6 separate regions of the Homo sapiens genome follow, and all the other regions are reported to be linked to region 2. The links are microRNA targets in miRTarBase. Many come from high-throughput screens and were not tested one by one. Region 2 holds a microRNA gene; each other region holds the end of a gene's coding sequence. Distances are between the middles of the regions.

Region 1 (4,132 bases), not on the chromosome of region 2:
GATCAGTAGGAAATACAGCCATGCAACCAGTGGAACTAAGCATGGATGTTAATGGACTCTTCAGGAGGTTTTTGAAGGATAGGAGGAAGTAAAGGGAAATGAAAAAATGATGAGGATAAGAATAATGTAAGAAGAGTAAGACAAAAGGTACATAAGAAAGGGCATGAAAGTGCACCAGCAGGAACTCCTCAGAGCCACCCATGCTATAGGTTGCCTTCCCCCTCCCCGATCTCGTGTCATATTTTCTATTCAGTTTTCCATTGATTTAACATCAAAAGTCATCTGGACATAGGCCAATTTCAAGTAACATTCGTATAAATTAAAATATTCTTAAATGCAGCTAAAAGGATTAGAATTATCCGAAGTAAACATGTTTACTTTTAAACTGTGTGTACTTTTACTTTTTTTTTTTTTTTTTGAGATGGAGTCTCGCTCTGTCGCCCAGGCTGGAGTGCAGTGGCGCAATCTCGCCTCACTGCAACCTCTGCCTCCTGGATTCTTCTCCTGCCTCAGCTTCCCGAGTAGCTGGGACTACAGGTGCATGCCGACACGCCTGGCTAATTTTTTTGTATTTTAGTAGAGATGGAGCTTCACCGTGTTTCCCAGGCTGGTTGCGAACTCCTGAGCTCAGGCAATCCGCCTGCCTCAGCCTCCCAAAGTGCTGGGATTACAAGCGTGAGCCACTGCGCCCAGCCAGAATTTGAATCTTAATACAAGAACTATGCAATTTTCAGTGGAAATTTTAAGTCTTGTAGCAGGGCTATGGAGTAAGCATTGTAAATATGATCAAAGAGATGAACACATCTTGCATAAAGTATCAATAATCTGGGTGGTATATTACTGCTTAAATGGATGGATCCCAGCAATATCCATTGCAATAAAATTTAACCAAAATGTTTCTGGAAGTTTCTTGGCCATCTGTTACAATAGTATCCAATCTAGAGTATCTATAAAAAGGAATGTTACTCCCTTTCATGCTTTTTTTGGCCTCAAATGCCAGAACCTTTCGAATTTGAGAATTTTCTGAGTCTTATCAAAAACAGGATGAGGAGATAAAAACAGAGTTCTGACTCTGTATTCTTTTCAGACTCTCAGAAAAGTGTCTGGATTGAACACAAAAAATTTAGGCTTATCAGGTCACTTTATTGCAGCAGTAACACTTCATTCAGAAATTAGAAAGGATTTAGTTTGACTAGATTAAAGCACAAATTTTTATATTAGTATTTTTCATTTTCTTTGTGCATTTTAAACTTTTAGAACTTTTCCCACAAAAAACATAGTACTAAATATGCATTTATGGAATTTAGCATCTTACGTTTATACTTTTTCTTCTTAATTTTATATTATTATAGCAGAGTATTCTCCGTATGAGTCTATTACAATAGAACTTTTTCAGTGTTATAGATCCAGTTTGATTCATTCCATTAAACTGAAAACTACATATGTGAAGTTTAATATACAAACACATATGCTGAGATCTAAGTTATATATACTTGTCACTGCTGTTTTAATATGGAAACTAACCAAGCAATTTCTTTTAGTTTCAGATGATCACTTTTTTCCTAAAATCAGCCAAATTTTGAAAAGAAAAACACTGTAGAGGTCTTTACAGAGTAAAGTTTTCATTTTTAAATTACTTTCTGTAAAATTGGGGAGAAGGTGTTTTGAGGGGAGTCTGTGCTAAAACTTAAAACAAAATTTAACATTTATTTTTTGTTTTTGATTTTCTTTTACAGACAGGGTTCTGCTCAGTTGAACAGGCTAGAGTACAGTGGCATAGCTCACTGCAGCCTCCATCTCAAGGCTCAAGCAATCCTTCCACTACCTCAGCCTCTGAGTAGCTGGGGCTACAGGTGGGCACCATCATGCCTGGCTAATTTTTAAATTTTTTGTAGACACAGGGTCTCATTATGTTACCCAAGCTGGTCTTGAACTTCTGGGCTCAAGTGATCCCCCTGCCTTGGACTACCAAAGTGCTAGGATTACAGGCATGAGCCACTATGCTTGGCCTAATTTTTTTTTTTATTTTTAGTAGAGACAGGATCTTGCTATGTTGCCCAGGCTGGTCTCAAACTCCTGGGCTCAAGCAATCTTCCCTCCTCAGCCTCCCAAAGTGCTGGGATTATAGGCGCAAGCCACCTTACCCAGCCAAAATTAACATTTATAATAGTGGGTTTGATGATTGGTCTTAGTAGTATGTTTTGTTGAACTTCTCAAAAATGAGAAAGTAACGTTTTATATAACTGGACATGACTGAATGAAATCATTTTCTAAAAGCTTATAATAAGGACATGAAAGGGTAGTATGGTCAAAATGTAGATTTTTTTTCCTGCAAAAGAACCATCCACAGGCAAATTATCTAAGTCCCCTGAATATGAAATATGACACTATTAGAAGTGGTAAGGTGCAACTGCATGTATGACAAAGTAAGTTGCTGAATGTCTTCACAATCAAAAGCACTAACTTTTAAAGGCCTCAAGTACTAAAGCATAATTTTAGGGATAGAGGAAAGTGTTCTTGTTTTTGTAAATGAGTATGGGTCATGGCATGACTTTGGTTTTATTTTGGGTCCTCAAACTGAGAGCTTTCTTATGATAATCTGTATATAAATAGCAAAAAAAAACAATGGGAATGTTCATAGGATAAATAATATGAGTGCAAATTTTTGCCAGAAAGTTCTGGAAATGTAGGACTTGGTTCTTTTTATAAGTGCTTTTAACCTTTTCAGACTCATTAATTTCATAAACCAATTTAAGCAATTATTTCTATCAGCTACAGATATTTTCTTCACAAATATAAAGGGTTTTGCTCCCCTCCCCATCCTCCAGCCTCCACCAATTTGTGCCTGTAACTGCCACTTGATAGCTGCTCAGTAAGACTTTAAATATCAGGTTCTAGTGCCAACAAATCCAGAAGTCAGAAAAATTCTAAGTTACAATCGCCAGAATATCTTTCATGCATTCTATTTTACTTTATTGTTACAGTTTAAACAAATTCAGAAACGTGGGGTGTTTCTGGCTACTTGAGTAAAACGCACTGCAAACGCAAAGGGAACAACGCTGTAAACTTAAATGATTTCTGAACAGCTCAGGATCCTCCTGGAGGGGATCCTTTTCATCTCACATATTGATTCTGAACACTATGTTAGCACCTGCTCCCAGAAGGTCCCTTGACACTGGAGCAAGTCAGAATATCTTAATATCATAGCTTATTTAACAGCAGGAAAGCAACTTTAACATAGACTTGAGGTTTAGGTAGATCTGGTATTATCTAGAACCCAGGCTTAAATTTTGCAAAAAGTTTCCAAAGAGCATAAGAAAGTAAAACAGAGGTACCAGAACTGAAGACATCATTAACAAACAAAATATTTCCACTCCTAACCAAACTGCAACCCTTTCAGTATAGCCTGAGGTATTTTTAAACATTTGTACAAGCTAAAGATCATTCACAGTTTCCAAAGCTGCTTTTTACTGAGATAGCTTCAAATTTTCACAATATGTGACTTTCAGACGTTTTCATATACCAGAGTCTCTGCCCTCAGACTCATGGAAACATCAGAGATATTTAGTGGCAGAAAATGGTTCTTCTAGTGATAAGGGTTCTATTTCCCAATTATTGTGCTATTCCTAGGATGTGATTAAAAAAATATGAAATTTGCAATTTGTATAAAAGGAAAGGAAACTTGCTTAAAATTCAAAAAGCAAGTCCAGTCTGGTGGAGGTATGTAAGATATTAAATAATAGAGTCAGATTCTTTCTTGAACATTCCAGATGAACTTGACAGCAGAGAGTTCTGGTTTTCCAACATTTTCTCCATCTTTTCTTTTCCAGTGGTTTTACTGATCTCTCTTTGCTTCTTACTATGGATCCACGGGATAAAACAAAGCACAGCACCTCCAATAAGGGGAGGGACTCCAGCGAGGTAGAATGCCACATCATAGGAGCCCAGTTTGTCACGAAGTAACCCTGAGAAGGGAAAAAGCTGTCACCAAGGGAGAACAAGTGTGGCTCTGTAGGGGGTCTAGATCAGCCACAGGACTGATTCAGACATCTCAGACATCAGACTTTTTTTTTTTTTTAGGAAACAGATCTGAAATATAAACCCTTTTTGATAGGAAGAAAAAGATCTCATA
Region 2 (4,132 bases):
AGAACTCAGCCCAGTGGGAACATAAGGCATGGCTGGAACCCCGAGGGTCACTCTGAGGAGAATCCATTCAGACCTGGGAAAGGTCCCCCAGCCCAACCCTGAGGGTCACTCAGAGGAGAATCCATTCAGACATGGGAGAGGTCCCCAGCCAGACCCCAAGTCCCCCGGAAGCCTGCGGGCAGCTGGTTCCAGGCTTCCGACTTCTGGTGTTAAATCTTTGGAATGCTGAAAGGGCCTGGTTCCAGGCAAACGCTGCCCAATTTCCTCTCCCAAACTTGCCAAGTTCTTTCTCATTGTTGCATTGTCTTGAGAGGTGAGAAAAACAGCCCAGGGTGCGCTGTGAGCGACCTTTTCCAAGCTCCCCTTCCCCGGCCCAGTTTCTTAGGGAAAAGGAGCTTCCTTTCTTACTGGAAGCTAGAGAGTGAGACCTTTCTGGTGCTTTCCAGACCGGAAAAGTCCTGCTTGCTACCTTCCAGTAAGAAAGGAACCCACCCCGTCCCTGCCCTGCTGCCAATGTTTGGGGTAAACAGTTGCCCCGCCTCCTGCAGGACTTTCCAGAACATTGGTGAGAAGAGCCGAGTCCCGGAACCCATCCCCGAAAGAAGCAGACACTCTTGGGAGGAGGGTCTCCCTGCTCTTATCTTGCCTGAAGCCTTGTTTGTGGAGCAGCGGCTCTGTCTAATTTTTGCTGATGGGCAGCCACTCAATTTTTAGGCAGAATCCCCCAGAAGATGATCTGCGCCGCGCTGCTCTTTAATGCCTGCTACCCCATCCCAGGGGCCAGTGACAGCACCTTCAGGACGTTTTCATGACACTGTCTATGTACTTACATGCTTGGCCTCCCCACAATGAAATGCTAGCAGAAAGGGCATCAATGGAGGAAATGGGATAAACAGGCCCTTTCTGCAACGAGGGATTCTAATAACATGGCAGTGAGGGAGCTCACGCTGAAAACACAAAGCATCCAAAACACACCAACTGGACCCACGCTGGAAGGCTGGGCGCCTCTGTCTGCCAACTCAACCTGCTGGTAGATTGCTCTGTCTCTGAGCTGGGGATGAGGGGCATGGGCCTGAATGTCCTCTCTGCCTTCCTTGAAGGATCAGGTCAGCTCCCCGAGGTCTGCAAGAGGCATTGATTCAAATTCTAACAAAGTAAGAGTTTTACAAAGAGCTCCTTAGAAGACAGAGAGAGCGGAGGAGGAGGAAGAGAAGAGGGGAGAGACACACAGAGAGGACTGGGGGACAGGCTCAGAGGTGGTGAGAGGCCTGGAGGAAGGACCTGCAAGAGAAGCCCAGAGTGAGCCACAGCAAGGACTAAAGAGAGAGAAAGAGGAGAGGCAGGAGGGGACAGAAGGGGAAGGAGGGGAGAGAGATGGAGAAAAGGCATGAGAGAGAGGAAAACAGACACACATGGATGCAAAGAACCTGAAAGAGACAGAGATGGAGAGAGATCAGGCAGGCTGGGGTAGGGAAGGGGCACTAGCCCTCTTTGGGCCCCGCCATTCCCCTTGTCTGTAGAGAGAATGGCTGTGCTGTAATGCAGCAGGGTGCAGACTGCATTACAGCACAGCCAGACTGCAAGATCGAAGAGCCCCCTGTGATCTGACGTGATTCGCCCCAGGAGGGGCTCAGGTGCCTGCAGTATGAGGTCAAAATGAAAAGGCCTCGAGGTCAGCACTGCTCCACAGAACTTCGTGTGTCAATGGAAATGTTCTTTATGTGCGCTGTCCAACACAGCAGCCTTTGGCCATGTGTGGCCCCTGGCCACTGGAGGTGTAGCTAACGGGACTGAGGAACTGTGTTATTAATTTGATGAGTAAATTAAATCCATCTGTGGGCTGCCATGCGTGGCTGCTGGTGGCTGTGCCGGGCGGCACCATTTAAGGCACTTTCACTCATCTGCTGACTAGGAGCACTAAGGTAATGCCGTTCAGATGGGCACCTGGCTGTTTCTTGGTCCCCTCTCCCACCCTGGAGCAGGGAAGATCTGTCCCCAGGGCCAAAGGGGTTGTTCTCTGTGACACCACGGCTCTGGGATCTAATACAGTATGTTGTATGTGAATCAAGACAAAGTACAGCCTCTCAAAGCAGAGGGTCCTGCCACCCGTCACAAAAGGCACGTGAATACAACCAGGACTGAAGAAAGCCCTGAGTACCACACCAGGGGCCAAGTGCACCCCGCCCCAGCCTCCCTAGAACCACACAGACTCGCTAGCCCTGTTTATAGAATGAGCCAGCTACATACCACCCATGCATCACGGTGGGCAGAGTGTGGGGGTGAGGATGAGAGGGAAGCAAGGGAGAAGCCGATCCAGGTCTACCTCCCCTGACGGAAATGGCAGCCAGGGAGAGAACCACAGCCGCCAGGGGCAGGGGCTGCACCCACCTGGGTTCCCCTTGGGGGAAGGGTTGGGAGGCCGTGTCTGCTGCTCCCTCATTAGCTCGGAGTCCGGCTCTGGATCTGAGGAGTTGCAAGCCGCCTCCTCCTCCTCCTTTTCCTCTGCTTCCTCCTCTCCTGCTCCTGCCTCTGACTGCGCTGTCCACGGGATCAGGGGGCAGTGAGCAAGTGGGATGCTGGAGCAGCTAGAGGCTCCCCGCCCGCTCGGCTCCTCAGCACCACGGCGGCAGCTCTGTCCTGAAGCCCTGCCAGACACGGCGGCCAGGCGAGTCATCACAGCTGGGCCCGCGGCCACAGCCGGGTTAAAGGGACATTCCAGGCACTGCTTCTCTGCTTTTCAGCCTCACTGCCCCTCCATCCCTGTGGCGAGTGATGCTCTGGCCTCCTTTGGAGGCCAGGGCTGCCCCTCCAGCCCCAGAAGGAATGAGGCCCCTTTGCTGGTGGAGCAGGAAAGTGGAGGCTCAGGGCCTCCTCTCCTCCAACTGGAATGTTTCAAGGGGCTCCCTCCTGCCTCTCTGTCATGCACAGATCTAGGCCCCTCTGCCCTGCCACCACACTGATTCCTCTAGTGTCCCTCTACCCCTTCAGAGCTTTCAGTGGCTGCCTATTGCCTTTGGAAGAGGGTCTGAGGCTTCTTCACTTGGCTGGCAAGGCCTGGGTGATCTGGCCATCGCCCAACAGATCTAGACATATCCACAGCCCCAAACTCCATCTCTCCATCTCCTCCAGCTGCAGCAAGTACCCAGGTCCCCCATATTCAGGCTTTGCACACACATCCCCTCTGCCCGGGGAGTGTGCCCCCACCCCACCATTCTGGCACACTTCTACTCATCCCTCTACACCCAGTTCAAATGCCCCCTGTCTGGGGAGCCTGCTTTGGCCCCCCAGGCCAAATAAGTTCCTCCTTCTCTGGGCTCCCAGTCCTCCACGGTTGCCTCTAATTTAGCCATTATTTCCGTAATCATTTGTTTATGGCTCTGTCTCCCCAGGGGCTGAGGGGCTCTTCACGCATGGGGCCTCCCCGAGCACAGGGGAGAGGCTGCCTCAAAGCTCTGTGACTACAGCAAAGTCATTGGGGTAGGACAATCTCTGGCTACCCTACCTCTCCGTTGGCCACTGAACCCTGTGATTGCCCGCCCCATCTCCCCCGCCGAGGGGGGCTGGCACTGACCACCCCCTTCATGGACTCTGTGCTGCAGCCATCGGATGGGCAAGAAGGAGCGAGTGAAGAGGCAGAGGAGCTGGCAGAAGTGTCTGGCAGGAGGGTGACACTGACCTCTATCATAAAGATGAGAGGAGAGAAAGAAAGAAGAGGAAGGCTTTGCTGGCTGTGGTGGGGAGGGGGGGAGGGACAGTGTGGGGGTGTGGGGACAGGGTTAAAAGAAAAGCGTAGAGGGCAGAGTGTGAGAGATTCACTAAGAAGAAAGCAGACTGGGGCAGGCGTGGTTTCCAGAGTCCTCTGAGAGATGACAGTAAGAAACAGGACATTTCTAACAATGCTAAGTTGTTACGCTCCGCTACTGAGCTCAGCATTCCTTGGAGCCCAGACTGGGTGACTCTCAGCCCAATGCTGTTACACAATCCAGTGGCTGCTAGATCTAAAATAGGTTTTTAGAAAGCATCTCTTTGGGCTAAGAGAAGGTTTCCCTGGAAAAACAAGTTAGGAATAAAATGATCCCAAAAGAAAAAGCAAGGCAGGTCTTCTTCCCACTGATAAGAGAGTAAATTTTCT
Region 3 (4,000 bases), 63 Mb from region 2:
TTTGTATTTTTAGTAGAGATGGGGTTTTACTATATTGGTCAGGCTGGTCTCAAACTTCTGACCTCAGGTGATCCACCTGCCTCGGCCTCCCAAAGTGCTGGGATTACAGGCATGAGCCACCGTGTCCAGCTGTACTGTGCATTTTTTAAAAAAAGGATCGGCTGCTTTGTGGACAAGGGGCTGTGGAGCAGACACAATGACAGACCAGATGAGAGGCCATTACAATAGTCCAGTGGTTAGAATCCTCAGCCCTCAGTCTGGTAGGTAATGATGGTATTTGTTTCCAAATATATTAAATGTACATGTGAACTTATTATTTTTTAGGAAAGTCGTGACAAGTGCTACCTAATCCAGAAACTAACAGAAGCCCAAAGGGACATGAGGAACTAACTAGACTGAGCGTGAAGATGGTGCTGCCTGTTGCTTCTAAGCTGACCTAGTGATTCTGCTGAGCCTACAGAGTCTACCTGGGTTTTGAGTGGACATTTAAAAATATATTTTTCTTGAGTTTAGGCTTTTCCATATGTGCAGCTGTGTTTACCTAACCCAGCCCTTAATTAGGGCTTCAGTGACTTAGAAAAGCAGGGGAAACCCAAGGCTTTGCCTGCAGACCGGCCACTCTGTGACAACTCTACCAAAAACCAACAAGCCATTCAAGCTTTTACAAGAATGAAAGAGCGGAGACGGTAGTTTAGTATTTGAGCCACGAGTTTATGTGCACAAGTGTTTTGGGTTGTGGACTGAAGCTCAGCCTGTTAATCAGACCAGCCCATGAGTGTATAACAAACAGAATTGGAGGCTGGTTTCTTAAACACACACGTCCACATTTTTTAGGGTTGTTTTCCTGTGCTTACAATTTTTAATGCATGTGCCTTTATTTCACAAAACATGTGGCTGGGCGCAGCGGCTCACGCCTGTTATCCCAACACTTTGGGAGGCCGAGGCAGGCGGAGCACCTAAGTTGGGGAGTTCAAGACCAGCCTGACCAACGTGGAGAAACTCCGTCTCCACTAAAATACAAAATTAGCTGGGTGTGGTGGCACATGCCTGTAATATCAGCTACTCAGGAGGCTGAGGCAGGAGAATTGCTTGAACCCAGGAGGTGGAGTTTGCAGTGAGCTGAGATCACACCATTGCACTCCAGCCTGGGCAAAAAGAGCAAAACTCTCCCTAAAAAAAAAATGTAGAATATCTCTTAAGATTTCCGTTATGGTAAAAACCATATGCAATAAATACCTCATTGTAAGCTTACCCAAAATTGATAGATGTCAACCTTTTAACAGAAGAACAGAAGTTTAAGTTATTGTTTAATGTAATCAGTTTTCATTTTAATATCTTTGAAATCTTTTTCAAAGGACTGTAGTTTTGTAATGGACTTTTCAAGCCTTCCTTCCATTGTTTTTCTTCCGTTCACTGGCTCCACACGTTTCCTGGGGAGTAGCCTGGAATTTAAAGTTGGGTGCAGGTTTTAGAAAGCTGTTGCTGTTAACAATAATTCTCCCGGCCATCTCCACTCCACTACTCAAAAATGCCTGAATCCTTGCTCAGAGGAGCAAAGGTATCTTCTCGTCCCTTTCTTACAGCCATTTTCTTGCTTTTCCACAAAGATATTATTTAAAGTGGAATATTTTTGTAACTGGGATACCAATGAGCTTTTCGGTCTTTTCCTGACTTGGTAAGGTTTATGGGTTTCTAAATCTAATAACTACAGTCATACCACCCTGAAAATGCCTGATCTCGTCTAAATCTAATAACTGGTGTCATGGAATTTTGAGTAACCAAAGATTCATTCCAGTCTCACTTAAAAAAATAAATTCTGCTGGGCACAGTGGCTCATGCCTGCAATCCCAGAACTTTGGGAGTCCAAGGAGGGCAGATCACCTGAAGTCAGAAGTTTGAGACCAGCCTGGTCAATGTGGCAAGACCCCGTCTCTACTAAAAGTACAAAAATTAGCCAGGCATGGTGGCGTGTGCCTGTAATCCCAGCTACTTGGGAGGCTGAGGCATGAGAATCACTTGAACCTGGGAGGTGAAGGCTGCAGTGTGCGAGACCGTGCCACTGTACTCCAGCCTAGGTGACAGAGGGAGACCCTATCTCAAAAAAAAAGATAGGTGAAAAGAAAAAAAAAGTTGTAATTGTAAACATTTCTGCCCAGTGCCTTTATATTTATATAACATTTTCACTGTGACCAGACTTGATGATATTCAAGTTTTCTATTTGTGTGTGTGTGTGTGTGTGTGTGTGATGAACACAACGAAAACGTACTGCGTTTTTTTTCCTATTATAAAAGTGATACTGAAATATGCTAATTAATATATTAATTTTAGTTAAATGCTGCTAATATGCATACCTCTTACTTGAAGGTTTTTAATATGTTTTGATAACTTTAATAACTTCAGGTGATGTCTGTATAACTTTTAAAGTGCAGCTCTCTCTAACAAATGTGCCTTACAACTCCTGATTAAACGGCGTCTTGAAGGTTTTAAAATGTGATCGTGTATACTGGAATTCAAAGAGGCTTCTTGTCAGCAGTCAAGTGATGATGGAAAACTGTAATAGTTTGTAAAGTTCCTCTTTGCTTTTTCCTAAAATGAGAGAAAAGAAAGAAGTGTTTAATGTAGTCCTCAGATGAGTGCTTTTAAAGCTCCTTGGCTCTGTTGAAGCCAAGGAGGGTGTATGTGTGTAACTGCCCAACTGGTTCATTTTGCCCGCTGCCTGGATACAGCCCATTCATCAAGACAGAGGAATTGCAGCAGAGGAATTGCAACAGAGAAAGCGTTTGATACATGCAGAGCTGGCTAAACAGGAGACCAGAATATTATTATTACTCAAATCAGTCTCCCTGAAATTTTGGAAACTGGGTTTTCCTGTGTATGTATTTTCTCTCTCTCTCTCTGTGTGTGTGTGTGTGTGTGTGTGTTTGAGACGAAGTCTTGCTCTTGTTGCCTAGGCTGGAGTGCAGTGGGGTGATACTGGCTCACTGCAACCTACACCTCCCAGGTTCAAGCGATTTTCCTGCCTCGGGCTCCCGAGTAGCTGGGATTACAGGTATGCGCCACTACACCCAGCTAATTTTGTATTTTTAGTAGAGACGGGGTTTCTCCATGTTGGTCAGGCTGGTCTCAAACTCCCGACCTCAGGTGGTCTGCCTGCCTCGGCCTCCCAAAGTGCTGGGATTACAGGCGTGAGCCACCGTGCCCGGCCGTGTTTTTTTTTTTTTTTTTTTTTTAATATGTAGTCTCTATTGCCCAGGCTGGAGTGCAGTAGTGCGATCTCGGCTCACTGCAAGCTCTGCCTCCCGGGTTCACCATTCTCCTGCCTCAGCCTCCCGAGTAGCTGGGACTACAGGCGCCCACCACCACACCCGGCTAATTTTTTGTATTTTTAATAGAGACAGGGTTTCATCAGGATGGTCTTGATCTCCTGACCTCATGATCTGCCCGCCTCGGCCTCCCAAAGTGCTGGGATTACAGGCGTGAGCCACTGTGCCTGGCTGTGTTTTTTTTTTTTTTTTTTTTTGAGATGTAGTCTCACTCTATTGCCCAGGCTGGAGTGCAGTAGTGCGATCTCGGCTCACTGCAACCTGGGTTCAAGTGATTCTCCTGCCTCAGCCTCCCAAGTAGCTGGGACTACAGGTGTGTGCCACCATGCCCAGCTAATTTTTGTACTTTTAGTAGAGATGGGGTTTTGCCCTGTTGGTCAGGCTGGTCTTGAACTGCTGACCTCAAGTGATCCTTCCACTTCGGCCTCCCAAAGTCTGGGATTACAGGGGTGAGCCTCCGTGCCTGGCTGGAACTAGTTTTTTTAATGGATAATTTGGTGGGTAGGGGGATGGAATTAGGGAATAGTATGCATTTTTGTTTTTTAAATTTTGTTTTGCCATTATAAAAATACTTGTTTTTTATAGCAAATACAGAGAACATCAAAAGCAACAGAGAAAAAAACTTAAAAAGCAGCACTTATGGGCACGCACTGTTAATCCTGGCAAAATTCTTTTTA
Region 4 (4,130 bases), not on the chromosome of region 2:
GGAGAAAAACCTTTTGAATGTAGCGAGTGTGGTAAGGCATTTGGTCTGAGTAAATGTCTTATTCGGCACCAGAGACTTCACACGGGTGAAAAGCCCTATAAATGCAATGAGTGTGGAAAATCCTTCAATCAAAACTCACACCTTATTATACACCAGAGAATTCACACTGGTGAGAAACCCTATGAATGTAATGAGTGTGGGAAGGTATTCAGTTATAGCTCCAGCCTTATGGTACATCAGAGAACCCATACTGGGGAAAAACCCTATAAATGCAATGATTGTGGGAAAGCTTTTAGTGACAGCTCACAGCTTATTGTACACCAGAGAGTCCACACCGGAGAGAAACCTTATGAATGTAGTGAATGTGGGAAAGCCTTTAGTCAGCGTTCCACTTTTAATCACCACCAGCGAACTCACACTGGAGAGAAGTCCTCAGGTCTGGCTTGGTCAGTTTCTTAAGGTATGGTTCTCTGAGACAGAGAGCAACGACCTTTGAGTTAAGCTGTCTTTATAAGCAGGATGCTCATAGTGGTTTCCCGGAGCCAGTAGTCACGGTGGACCATTCCCTACTTGCTTTTCCTTGGATCACTAAGGTGGGAGAGTAGGAGTAACTTATTCCAGTTCTTACCCATTATTAGGAAGGTAAGGACTACACATGTCATTGAATTGTAGGTTTCCTTTTTTTTTCTTTACTTTTAAATTTTAACTTTTAAAATCTATTTCATTTCTTAGTTATGCATCTCATAATCAGACTCCATGCTTTTTAAAGACAGAGATAATATCTTCTCTATTCTATTCTACTTCCTCCATTTCACCATTTATACAAAGTCATTCAAAAAGGCTGATTCATGCCTTCCTGCCTCTTGGCTATGGCCCTCCCCATCTACTCTTTAAACTTTAATCTATAACTTTTCATCAGTTTTGTTCCCTATCTAGAAAACATTTTCTTCTGTTTGCTAATCTTTGTCCCTCACAATTTTTGAAATCCATCTCATCACTGAAATACTTTCTTCTTCAAGTACTTTTTTATTTTTCTTCAACTTCTCTTGATTTGACCTCAGTGCTTTGAATTCACTGGTGCTACAATATGTAACTGTGGTTAATTGCCTTGTAAATTTTGCGTGTCTGTATACTTTTATACCAACTTATTGTAGGCTCTTTGAGGTCAGGTATGTATTTCTTTCCCATATAGATAGTATTTTGTACATACCAGTTGTTAAATAAATAATTTTTAAAATCTCAGCTCTCACATTGAATTATCCTTAAAGTATGCACGATCTTTCTCCCCTCCCCAGCTGGACCAGCTGCTTCTAAAGATGGAAGTCCATCTCATCATAGAATATCACATACAGAGGTCTTACTGATATCTTTTACATATACTCCTGGAAGTCTTACTACTGTTACTTCAGCCTCAAAATGCGAATGGATTTTGTGTGTGTGTGTGTGTGTGTGTGTGTGTGTGTGTGTGTGTGTATGTATGCAAAAGAGAGAGAGTGTGTGTGTGTGTGTATGTGTGTGAATGTGTGTGTATCTAGGTATTGGGTTGGGCAGTCATATCCCACTGGTACGGACTTTCCCCTACATGCTGATTCTAGTTCTGAATTTGCTAACTGTACCCTGCTTCCTAAATCAACAGATTAAGAACTGTGTCAGCTGGGCGCAGTGGCTCACGCCTGTAATCCCAGGACTTTGGGAGGCTGAGGCAGGCGGATCACGAGGTCAGGAGGTGGAGACCATCCTGGCTAACACGGTGAAACTCTGTCTTTACTAAAAAATACAAAAAATTAGCCAGGCGTGGTGGGGGGCGCCTGTAGTCCCAGCTATTCGGGAGGCTGAGGCAGGAGAATGGCATGATCCTGGGAGGCAGAGCTTGCAGTGAGCCAAGATCGCACCACTCCACTCCAGCCTGGGCAACAGAGCGAGACTCTGTCTCAAAAAAAAAAAAAAAAAAAAAGAACTGTGTCAAAATTTACTGCACCGAAGACTTGACTTTCATAGCAGTGGTACAGATTATTGAAAATCCAGCTAGCAGCATTCCCTGATGCTTGGAATTCACTATGACGAGGCTTGTGGCAAGATAATAGATTCACAGGAATCTGTTTTCCTTATCGACTAGTCCTATCTACCTACAACTGCCATCTTAATTTAAAGATGAGAGCTGTACCCTTAATTATCATAATTGTCTTCTGGACCATCTTTTCATTCCCCGAAGACATAAGAAAAGAAATCTCAGAAGATTTTCTGTCCTTCTGCCATCACATGTCAGTCCATGAGCTTGAACAACTTTTCCCTTCCACCCTTGCAATATGGCCCAGATCTGGGGGACGTTTGCCTCTGTTGTCTACCTCCTTCTCTTTCCATCCCTTAAACTTAATAGGTTTAGAGGATCCACAGTGTGACAGAGTAGAGGAGGAGGCTAGAGGAGCCATGCGAGTTATATAATCTGGAGGGGAGATTTTTTTGAGGTGTGGTGTATGTTTTAACATAGAAGAAAGGGTGGAGTTGAGGCATAGGAAAATAAGATTAGATGTGATTCTAGGGACATATCTCAGGCAAGTTTAGAAAGAATAATAGGAATCCTGAAAACACTGAACCCAGGACAGAACTGAAAATTTGCCACTTATGAATATATATTTTAAATTTGTTTTCAACTTTATATTTAGTATGTGTTTCCATTTTCCTTTAGAAGATATGCAGATAGGACTTTTTCATTGTTTTAGTTTGGAAGCTCCCAGATCCCAGGGACAAGCCCAACCCTATATGAGCACATGGGTCCAGCCCTCTACCCTGAGCTGGACATTTCTGGTTAAGTCTTCAATAGAACGTTCCTGCTTATTGGATGTTGCAGTTTTACCTTCTGGTTCTTGTCTGCTCATCGCCTACCACACTAACCCTCTAGAGGTTGGAAACCTGCACTATTCATAACTAAGGTGGGAATAGTAGGGAAAAAAAGAGTAGATGTAGGGAATTCTACACCAGTGTGTGCCTTGACATCCTTAAAAGCCTGAGGCTTTTGAATGGAGGAAAATTGGCTGCATTTGAAAGCCATACCTCAAATTCTATTGGTTACTGCTAGCATAAACTTAAAAAAAATTTAAATCTGGACTGTTATGTTGCTGAATTATTTTTAGTTTTAATGGTTTTTTAGTTTCATTTTCTAGGTATATAATAAATTAATGGCTCCTTTAGCTTTAAATTTTCTTTTTTTTCTTGGAGACAGGGTCTCACTTTCTTACCCAGGCTGGAGTACAGTGATGTGATCATGGCTTACTGCAGCCTCAACTTTCCAGGCTCAGGTGATTCTCCCACTTCAGCCTCCCAAGTAGCTTGGACTACAGGTGCATGCCACCATGCCCAGCTAATTTTTTGATATTTTTTGTAGAGATGGGTTTTCACCATGTTGCCCAGGCTGGTCTTGAACTCCTGGGCTCAAGCGGTCCGCCTGTCTTGGCCTACCAAAGTACTGAGATTACAGGTGTGAGCTGGCCTTATTTTCAATCTTATGCCACTTATGTTGTGCATTAGCAAGAACTTCCAAAAATGTTGAGTAGTAGATAACAGGTCTTCTATGTCTTGTTCTAAAATCTCAGGAGGGATGTTTTTAGTATTTCACATTTTCATTTGCGTTCATTGTTGGATATTGATAAATATTCTGTTGCGTTTAGGAAGTTTCCTTCTAATATTATTTCTAGAGGAAGCAGGGTAATATAGTGGTTAACAACACAGGTTTGGGGTGGACACGGTGGCATGTGCCTGTAATCCCAGCACTTTGGGAGGCTGAGGCAGGTGGATCACTTGAGGTCAGGAGTTCAAGACCAGCCTGGCCAACATGGCAAAACCCCATCTCTATTAAAAATATAAAAATTGGCCAGGTGTGGTGGCAGGCACCTGTAATCCCAGCTACTTGGAAGGCTGAGGCAGGAGAATTGCTTGAACCTGGGAGGTGGAGACTGCAGTGAGCCAAGATCTCACCATTATACCCCAGCCTGGGTGACAAGAGCAAGACTTCATCTCAAAAGAAAAACAAAACAAAACAAAATGAACAAACAAAAAACATGTCTGTGCCCAGCAACCTATGTTCAAATTCTGGGTCCAGTCAGGTGTGGTGGCTCACACCTGTAATCCCAGCG
Region 5 (4,132 bases), not on the chromosome of region 2:
AAAAGACTGACTTTTAAATTTCAGCCAAGGACAGTAAAAGTTAGTGATTTTTTAGAGATTCTTACCATGATTTTGGAAAACTGAGAATACTGCCTGTCATACTCAGGGAAAGCTATAGTTGGGAGGGCAGAGACTTTCAAAGCTATTGTTGAATCTTGGCTTTAAGGTACAGGTGGGGAACAGGTCCTGGTAATCTTCCAATCTCTGTAACTGTGCCTTTCCTGCCCATGCCATCCCCATGCTGTGTTCTCTGAGGACCAAGAGTTGGGAAGAGGAGGGGAAAGCCCTGCTGTGCTATCAGACCCTGCATTACATGCCCATCCTCACTGCAGCCCTGGCCACTGTCTCCTTTCTTCCTTTCTTTATTTCTTTTCTTTTTTTCTTTCTTTCTTTCGCCAGGGTCTCACTATGTTACCCAGGCTGGTCTTGAACTCCTGAACTCCTGGCCTCAAGTGATTCTCCTGCCTGGCCACTTTCTATGGTCTCAGTATCTCAGGTATGATGGGGAGCAAGGTGATGTGTAGAAACCAAAGGCCACAAGTAGCAGTCATCATTCCCACTTACAGCCCAGTCCCAGAGGACACAGATCCTGTTTTTGCCCCACACCAGCTGTGTTGGGAGGAAAATTCTGTCTGTATTTCCTCCTTCAGCTGAAAGCAGAAAGCTTGCATCTGGGCCTCTTCAGTTATCACTTGGTCCTGGGGGACAGAGTTAATATCTGGAAACTGGCTTAAATAAAAGATATCAGGGAAGGGTAGGAGTCTGTTTTTCTCATTTTCTCACTCTTCCCCCACTTCACCCTTCTAAGGCTGCGTGGGTTCTCTCTCTCTCTCTATCTCTCTCTCTCTCTCTCTCTCTCTCTCTCTCTCTCTCTCTCTCTCTCTGTGTGTGTGTGTGTGTGTGTGTGTGTGTGTGTGTGTGTGTCACCTGAGAGACTGGGTTCTGCTACCCTCTAGTGGCCAGAGCTGAAAGGACTCTCCCACCCAATCAATCGGGACCTTCAAGCCTTTGGGAATAAACGAACAGCCTATTTGATGAATGACAAAACTGAGAAGGCCTAGAGAGAAACAATGCCTTTGAGGGTCAGGGGCATAGTTGGGACTAGAACCCAGGTCTCCTGTCTCTCGGGCCAGTGGTCAGTCCACTTTCACTTCCCCACCCTCTGACTTTTGCTTCTCCTTCCTTGCTCATCCCTGGGGTGGTTAGCCCGAGTAAGAAACCCTGAAGCCAAATGATCCCTCCCGGCCCTAGTGGAGCAGCACCTGCACCTCAAATGTCAAAATCGCAAATCAGTTCACAGCGGAGATCACAGGGGTTTATTCTAAGGACCCGACTGTCCTCCGACTTTCTGAGGTTAACAATCTTGCAGGATTTTTATTGACCTGATACAGCTCCCGTAGCCTTGGTGGCACCACCATACGGTTCCCGATAGCCACCCAGGTGTCCTGTCTCCACGGTAACTGCTGCTTTGCGACCTTCGGTTTGCAGCGGTCGCGCTGCAGCCGCTGCAGTGGTTGCTGGGCGACCACGGAGAGAAAGCCGGGACTTGAGGTGGGAACCCCGGCTGGCGTCCGGTAGGGGGAGGTTCCCGGGGAAGCCCGCGGAAGGCGAGGTGCCTGGCCTGCCATGTAGGGGCTCGTTCCAAGCCGCAGACCCCACCGCCCTCCCTCTCCCCGGGGCCCATGGCGGTGGCCGTGCCCCCGGGTCGGGCCGCAGGCTCAGGCTGGGCCTGGAGGCCAGTGGCGCGGGACGCGCTTTTGGCTAGAGCTTTCCATTCATGCACCGAACTGCGGGGACGGTTCTATCTCGTAGGTGGTCTCCTAGCAGGAGGAGCGAGAGAGCCCAGCAGCGATACGGTGGTTTTCGACCCAGCTAGGGGCCAGGCCGTACGATTGGGAGCCCGGGGCAGCCCCCCGCGCAGTCACCACGACGCGGCACCCGTGGACGGGCGTTGGCTCTGCGTGGTGGGCGGCTGGGACGGGTCTCGCCGCTTGGCCACAGTGACCGCACTGGACACAGAGCGCGGTGTGTGGGAGGCGTGGACAGGGACCCCTGGTGACTGCCCCCCCGCCGGCCTCAGTAGTCACACCTGCACCCGAATCTCTGACCGAGAGCTGCAGGTGGCTGGCCGGGAGGGCGGTATCCACACTCAGCGACGCTATGGAAGCATCTACACATTAAGGCTGGACCCCAGCGCCCGCACCTATTGGTATGGCACCCTCCGCCCAAAACCTTTCACTCTCATCCACACTCTCGAAAAACAAAAGCCTAAGCAGATTTCTCAGGCAATTTATCCACCTCCTCACTCTAGCACCCTCCTTCCAGGGGAACCTACCATGTTTAAGCTAGCTGAGCTCTCTACAGTATTACCCTCCCTCTTATCCCACCTACCGCACTGCCCCATGCCTCTTCTCCATCCATCCTTGGCAAGGGCGGTGGCACTTACATTTTCCAGAAAACCCACTCAGCCCTGAATTTCTGCATGTCCACAGCTACAAGCAAGAAGGCTGCCACACAGCCTCACGCTCAGGTCACTGTGCGGCCCTGCTCCAAACTCCTGGACCCCATCCAGGTCATCAGCTATTGCTCTTTGGAGGTTGCAACTTAGCTGAACCAGAAGTAGCTGGGCATTGGAGTCATGGGAAAATTAAGGTATTAGCTCCTCACACATCTTGTTTAGGATGGGAAGAGGCTAAAATTGTGATGCCCAGGTCTCTTCGGACAGTCCTTTCTTTCTCCCCAAGGAGGAACCACCTGTTGCTCCTCATTTGATGGAACAGCTTGCAAGGCTTGTGAGCAGTGGGCAGGGGTCCCAGAAGGGGCCCCATGGACTACGGCATCACTCATGTTCTGTGGTCGGGCCCTTTGCTGTGCTGTTTGGTGGAGAAACTCTGACCAGAGCTAGAGACACCATCTGCAATGATCTCTACATCTATGATACTCGTGAGAGCCAGACTAATGGCTGAAGGGGGGGAAGGTGGGAAGATGGGGGAACCTGAAGACTACAGAAAGAGGATGGAGTGATGGGGTAGGGAGGAGGAAAAATTAGTTGACAGGAGTTAAAGGAGTACACAGAATATTAAGCATTTGAAGAGGCCTACAAATCAAGTGAGCAGAAAAACAATGGGCAAGCCCTTGGTCATGTTGAATTCTGTGAATGACAAAGTGCTACTGCCTCAATAACCACCCTCTGCCCGTATCCAACAGGCACATCTCCTCCTTTGTGGTTCCACTTCCCCTGTGCAGATCGTGGGATGAAACGCATGGGCCATCGCACCTGCCTTTGGAATGATCAGCTTTACCTGGTTGGGGGTTTTGGTGAGGATGGCAGGACAGCCAGTCCACAGGTTTGCATCCTGGACTTTATCTAAATAGTGCCAAGACACATCACTAAGCCTCGTTTTGTTTTGCTTTGTTGCAAACCTATAAAGCGTTATCACCAGAGCTATCTGCTTCACTTCAAATGCTTATTAAATTTCAATCTGAGACTCAAGATTTGTCTCTGAAATTTTTGGGGGGAGGGGGAAGGGCAGTAAATAAGTGGACATACCTTTATTTGCAAGGAAAGGATAAAATAAATATGGGTCCTACTCTCATATTATGAGTCATTAACCTGATGGAAACAAAAACCACACATCATATGCTGTTCCGTGTCTCAAAACAATTTCCACCCCCAAGTGGGAGAAAACTTCAGGCTACAGCTAAGATTCTGACCAAAACATTTAATTAACAAAAAAATATTACAATAGCAGAGAAAATAATAATAATAACAATAAAGAGAAATTAGAAGTGGGAGTCAGGGTAGAAAAAAATGCAAAGGCCTTGGTCCCTAGGAGACCAACACTCCAGCTGAGCTGGCCTTAGCCCCAGCCCCTTCTGAGTTTTCCTTGGCTGCTGGCTTCTCATCTTCTCCCATGAGACGAATGTTGTGCTTTTCCCGGAATTCATTTAGTTCTTTTCCCTTTGCCTGAAGCTGCTGTGTCAGTGTCTCAATGATCTTCTGTATCTAGAGGACAAGTGACAGGGATTATATAAGGAATTCAGGACTCCTTTCCCCCACCTGGAATGGACTATGGTTGGAGGAAGTGTTAACACATTTAACCTTACCTTTAACCAAGTAGAGGAGCCCAGA
Region 6 (4,000 bases), not on the chromosome of region 2:
TACAGGATTGAAGTAATTTATTTTTGGTAGTTAATAGTATAATTACTAACTGATAAAGTTTCTAGAGTGTAAGTATAGGTAATACTTTAGCCCATAAATAAGTGAAAGAACTAGCAGTGCAGCTAGTAAATCTAACGTGGTTCTTTTTTGACAACTGACACCAGAACCCTTAATCATTTGTATTTTACTGTTGGAAATGTTTACAGCAGCACTAGGACTCTAGCCTGCATTTAGGAAGACTTGCCATTTTGCCAAGTGTTTTAAACAGTTCGTGAGGGCTCTCCTTGGGTTTTCGGGGTTGTCCAACCTGCCTGCTGATTCTAGACTATATCCACAAAGTTCACCCAGGGCAGGAATGAAAAGTGTTTGGTAAAATAAATAGGCTGTTCTCTAGCAAAGCAGTGAGCTCCTGACTCCCAGGGTCTGGTCAGAGTTGCTGAGTGGGTTGATCTCTGGTCTTTCCTTGACAGTGCACGTTCGAAGGCTGTGGGAAACGCTTTTCACTGGACTTCAATTTGCGCACACATGTGCGAATCCATACCGGAGACAGGCCCTATGTGTGCCCCTTCGATGGTTGTAATAAGAAGTTTGCTCAGTCAACTAACCTGAAATCTCACATCTTAACACATGCTAAGGCCAAAAACAACCAGTGAAAAGAAGAGAGAAGACCCTTCTCGACCACGGGAAGCATCTTCCAGAAGTGTGATTGGGAATAAATATGCCTCTCCTTTGTATATTATTTCTAGGAAGAATTTTAAAAATGAATCCTACACACCTAAGGGACATGTTTTGATAAAGTAGTAAAAATTAAAAAAAAAAAACTTTACTAAGATGACATTGCTAAGATGCTCTATCTTGCTCTGTAATCTCGTTTCAAAAACACAGTGTTTTTGTAAAGTGTGGTCCCAACAGGAGGACAATTCATGAACTTCGCATCAAAAGACAATTCTTTATACAACAGTGCTAAAAATGGGACTTCTTTTCACATTCTTATAAATATGAAGCTCACCTGTTGCTTACAATTTTTTTAATTTTGTATTTTCCAAGTGTGCATATTGTACACTTTTTTGGGGATATGCTTAGTAATGCTACGTGTGATTTTTCTGGAGGTTGATAACTTTGCTTGCAGTAGATTTTCTTTAAAAGAATGGGCAGTTACATGCATACTTCAAAAGTATTTTCCTGTAAAAAAAAAAAAGTTATATAGGTTTTGTTTGCTATCTTAATTTTGGTTGTATTCTTTGATGTTAACACATTTTGTATAATTGTATCGTATAGCTGTATTGAATCATGTAGTATCAAATATTAGATGTGATTTAATAGTGTTAATCAATTTAAACCCATTTTAGTCACTTTTTTTTTCCAAAAAAATACTGCCAGATGCTGATGTTCAGTGTAATTTCTTTGCCTGTTCAGTTACAGAAAGTGGTGCTCAGTTGTAGAATGTATTGTACCTTTTAACACCTGATGTGTACATCCCATGTAACAGAAAGGGCAACAATAAAATAGCAATCCTAAAGCAAGAATATGGCAGAACAAGATCTGTAAGCACAGTCTTATTTTCTTTTGTTGTCCAGAATACTTATAATTCTTGAGCCTCCCAGAAATTGGAAGCTAAATAAAGCAACTCAAGTTTCCTTTATTTTGCACTCAATTACAGTGATTATTGATGAAAGCGATGCATGGATATTTTAATACTTCCTACATGTCCTGACTTCTGAAAGAGAGTAGGTAACAGGCATCCCGAGTTCAGGAACTACCTCAGAACACCCCAGGCCAGGTTGGTCATAGGCTGTGATTTTAGCCCCCGGCAAGTGTGAGTGAAGCATCTGTACCACCGCGCAGGCTGAGCGCCTGCGCAGGGTAAGGTGCCACCTGGCAGTGGGGCACACAGAGGGAAGACCAGGCCTGTCCATCAGCCGGCTGCCTTCAGAGGCAGCTCCAGCAGGACCTTGGCTTGTCTGACAGGAAATGCTTGTGGTCGTTGGTTATTTGGTTTGAGAGCCCTTGTTCCTCCATCTAGTGGAGTCCTTATTAAATGCTAGCAATGTGGCAATTGAGTGCCAGTAGCTTAATTTCATGTTTCTAAATGGACACTGGGTGCAAATCGGCAAGGTGATTAGATTATTAGAAAATTCTGCTCAATGAGTACCTCTCACATTGTAACCTCTTAAATGTACGATTATAATGTTGGATCTTAGGTCAAATAACAGACTTGAGAATACTTTATAAACTGCCATGATACAGCAAAATCTCATTTATTCAAAGTGCAAACATACTGTGTGTCTTTCTGTTTTGTGTATGCTTGACTGCAAGATAAATGACAAACTAGCTAATATCCGAGATTTATTTACAAATGGCCAGGGACCCCATCAGGTGAAACACATAGCCCATTGTCTTAGAGCTTCTCCATCGGTCCTGTACAGGAGGATTGGTGACCTACTAACAGTGACCCTGTGGCTCTGTGGAATTTTGAAGTGCCTTTTGTGAATCATGAATGAAACATTTAACTTGAGACCCTTTAAAAAATTCATCCAGAATCTGTTACCCCTTGGGTAGTTTGATGGAACTGAGTTAAGCAGAAGACCCCAGCTGTTTTCTGGGTAAGCCAGGCTTTGCTGTATCTGGCAGTCAGGAGAGAGGTCAGCCCATGGTGGAGGTCTTCAGTGCCGAGGGCTCGGATGAGAACGTGTAGTTCTTTGACTTGGACCTGGGCAGCGTCTTCTATGGATGCCTGCCTTGTGAGCACCCACACCTTCCCTCCCCACTGTCGGGTTGAGTAGCCCCAGCGTGGCTGTGTTAGGAGTCCTTTGCCCAACATTGTGCTGCACTGGAGCCTGGCCCTGGCACTGTCCTCAGGACCCTGCCCAAGGGCCCACCGCAGAGCACACCTATGCTATGGGGAGCCCTGCTGGCAGCCCCGAGAGCCATGCCATGGCCTGCAGGAGCCAGGCTCCTGTGTGGATGAAGTCCCTCTTCCTCTGTGCCTTGATCCCTTGGGGGTGCCTTTGGTCATCTCTTCTGTCCTTTCCTGTCTCTGAAATAGTCATCACTCCCCTTGACTCTCTCTGTTCACGTCTTCTCAGTCTGCAGAGTTAACTTCTGTAAGGAGTTTAATCTGGGGTTCCAAGAAAACAAGTTCCTTGTTAACATAGCACTGACTTTGCAACAATAGAAAACTAACAAATGAGCAACAATATAAAGAGTAGAGGTAGTTCTCATTGGGTGTAACTTCAACCCATTCTGCTTGTGGTTAGAATTTATAATTTTGCTAACGATGTAATTTACTAAGGTTTGAAATGGTATTCTAACAGTGAGTCCATTGTCTTGAGGATTAATCTGATTTATAAGTAATACTGATAGACATATTTTCGTACATCTGAGCAGAAATAAATGCATGTTTCTAGCATATGTAATATAAAAACTCCAGAGGATAAGTTTACACTTAACAAGATGTTGTTTTCTATTTTTGAATTTCTTATTATTTCCCCCTTTTTGGTAGTGGAGTTGAGAGGGGGAGCATACTATTTGTATAAAGAACTGTCACCCCAGAGTGACATTTATTTTCCAAGATGACCCTGAACTCATGCTGTTGGTTTCATATGGTGTTTGTGTGCTTTGCCTAGATTCAAGGCCTGAGGATTTGAGGAAAATCGGGATTTTTTTTTTCCTATTTGGTTTTCATGTAAAAGTTCTAAATGTCACTTATTTTGCTAAATAAGACCCTTTCACAGGATAGTGTGCGCAATACCTGTCCGTGTTTCCAAGCAGAGTTCAAGTTCATGTCTTCACAAGTAGATGAGAGTCACTTCCAGTCGGGGGAAGCCCGCCTGAGCAGTGTTTTGAGAGTGCGTACATTGGAGGACTGCCCCACGTCCGTTTGCACTCTGCCTTGCAAAACTTACTGTGGAGACGTGTCCCAGACTGGTCTCAGACCAGAGTTTGTGGCACAGGAAAACCTGGCCCCCTAAAAAGAAGTTTTGGAATTGGAAGCCTGATA

Evidence for each region. Region 2 holds the annotated microRNA hsa-miR-6504-3p (CAUUACAGCACAGCCAUUCU, at 1,523-1,542, opposite strand). A microRNA usually pairs through its seed, bases 2 to 8, with sites in the 3' UTR of a target mRNA and lowers its output. Matches are read on the target gene's strand: a 7mer-m8 pairs with bases 2 to 8, a 7mer-A1 pairs with bases 2 to 7 and ends in A, and an 8mer does both.
Region 1: the mRNA of SLC16A10 is a reported target of hsa-miR-6504-3p. Seed matches in the 3' UTR shown: 7mer-m8 at 1,982-1,988 and 7mer-A1 at 1,375-1,381.
Region 3: the mRNA of TMC7 is a reported target of hsa-miR-6504-3p. Seed matches in the 3' UTR shown: 8mer at 1,048-1,055 and 7mer-m8 at 1,975-1,981.
Region 4: the mRNA of ZKSCAN7 is a reported target of hsa-miR-6504-3p. The part of its 3' UTR that is shown has no 7-base or 8-base seed match.
Region 5: miRTarBase lists PFDN2 as a target of hsa-miR-6504-3p. Seed matches in the 3' UTR shown: 7mer-A1 at 3,739-3,745.
Region 6: the mRNA of YY1 is a reported target of hsa-miR-6504-3p. Seed matches in the 3' UTR shown: 7mer-m8 at 861-867 and 7mer-A1 at 3,412-3,418.

Annotation. Positions count from the first base shown.
Region 1 is chr6:111,221,836-111,225,967 of GRCh38, reverse strand. SLC16A10 (solute carrier family 16 member 10) reads right to left here. Exons shown (of 6, transcript NM_018593.5): 6 at 1-3,965. The coding sequence ends at 3,733. Among named protein-coding and RNA genes, the nearest start is that of SLC60A2-DT, 35 kb to the left of the region's middle.
Region 2 is chr16:81,608,797-81,612,928 of GRCh38, reverse strand. MIR6504 (microRNA 6504) reads right to left here and starts at 1,581; the gene lies at 1,521-1,581. The region is part of intron 2 of CMIP (c-Maf inducing protein); the gene reads right to left.
Region 3 is chr16:19,061,454-19,065,453 of GRCh38, forward strand. TMC7 (transmembrane channel like 7) reads left to right here. Exons shown (of 16, transcript NM_024847.4): 16 at 325-2,489. The coding sequence ends at 390. COQ7-DT (COQ7 divergent transcript) reads right to left here. Exons shown (of 3, transcript NR_119381.1): 2 at 2,352-2,586; 3 at 1,301-1,442. Among named protein-coding and RNA genes, the nearest start is that of COQ7, 4.2 kb to the right of the region's middle.
Region 4 is chr3:44,570,917-44,575,046 of GRCh38, forward strand. It overlaps ZKSCAN7 (zinc finger with KRAB and SCAN domains 7), which reads left to right. Exons shown (of 6, transcript NM_001288590.2): 6 at 1-1,242. The coding sequence ends at 459. All of the region lies in intron 2 of ZKSCAN7-AS1 (ZKSCAN7 ZNF cluster antisense RNA 1), which reads right to left. Among named protein-coding and RNA genes, the nearest start is that of ZNF660, 12 kb to the right of the region's middle.
Region 5 is chr1:161,096,854-161,100,985 of GRCh38, forward strand. PFDN2 (prefoldin subunit 2) reads right to left here. Exons shown (of 4, transcript NM_012394.4): 4 at 3,708-4,006. The coding sequence ends at 3,830. KLHDC9 (kelch domain containing 9) reads left to right here and starts at 1,508. Exons shown (of 4, transcript NM_152366.5): 1 at 1,508-2,209; 2 at 2,493-2,652; 3 at 2,745-2,943; 4 at 3,208-3,493. The coding sequence starts at 1,683. The coding sequence ends at 3,371. RefSeq lists silencers at 1,642-1,821, 1,882-1,931.
Region 6 is chr14:100,276,948-100,280,947 of GRCh38, forward strand. It overlaps YY1 (YY1 transcription factor), which reads left to right. Exons shown (of 5, transcript NM_003403.5): 5 at 471-4,000. The coding sequence ends at 653. It overlaps MIR6764 (microRNA 6764), which reads left to right and starts at 410; the gene lies at 410-470. It also overlaps a transcript of SLC25A29 not described here. RefSeq lists an enhancer at 1,386-2,366.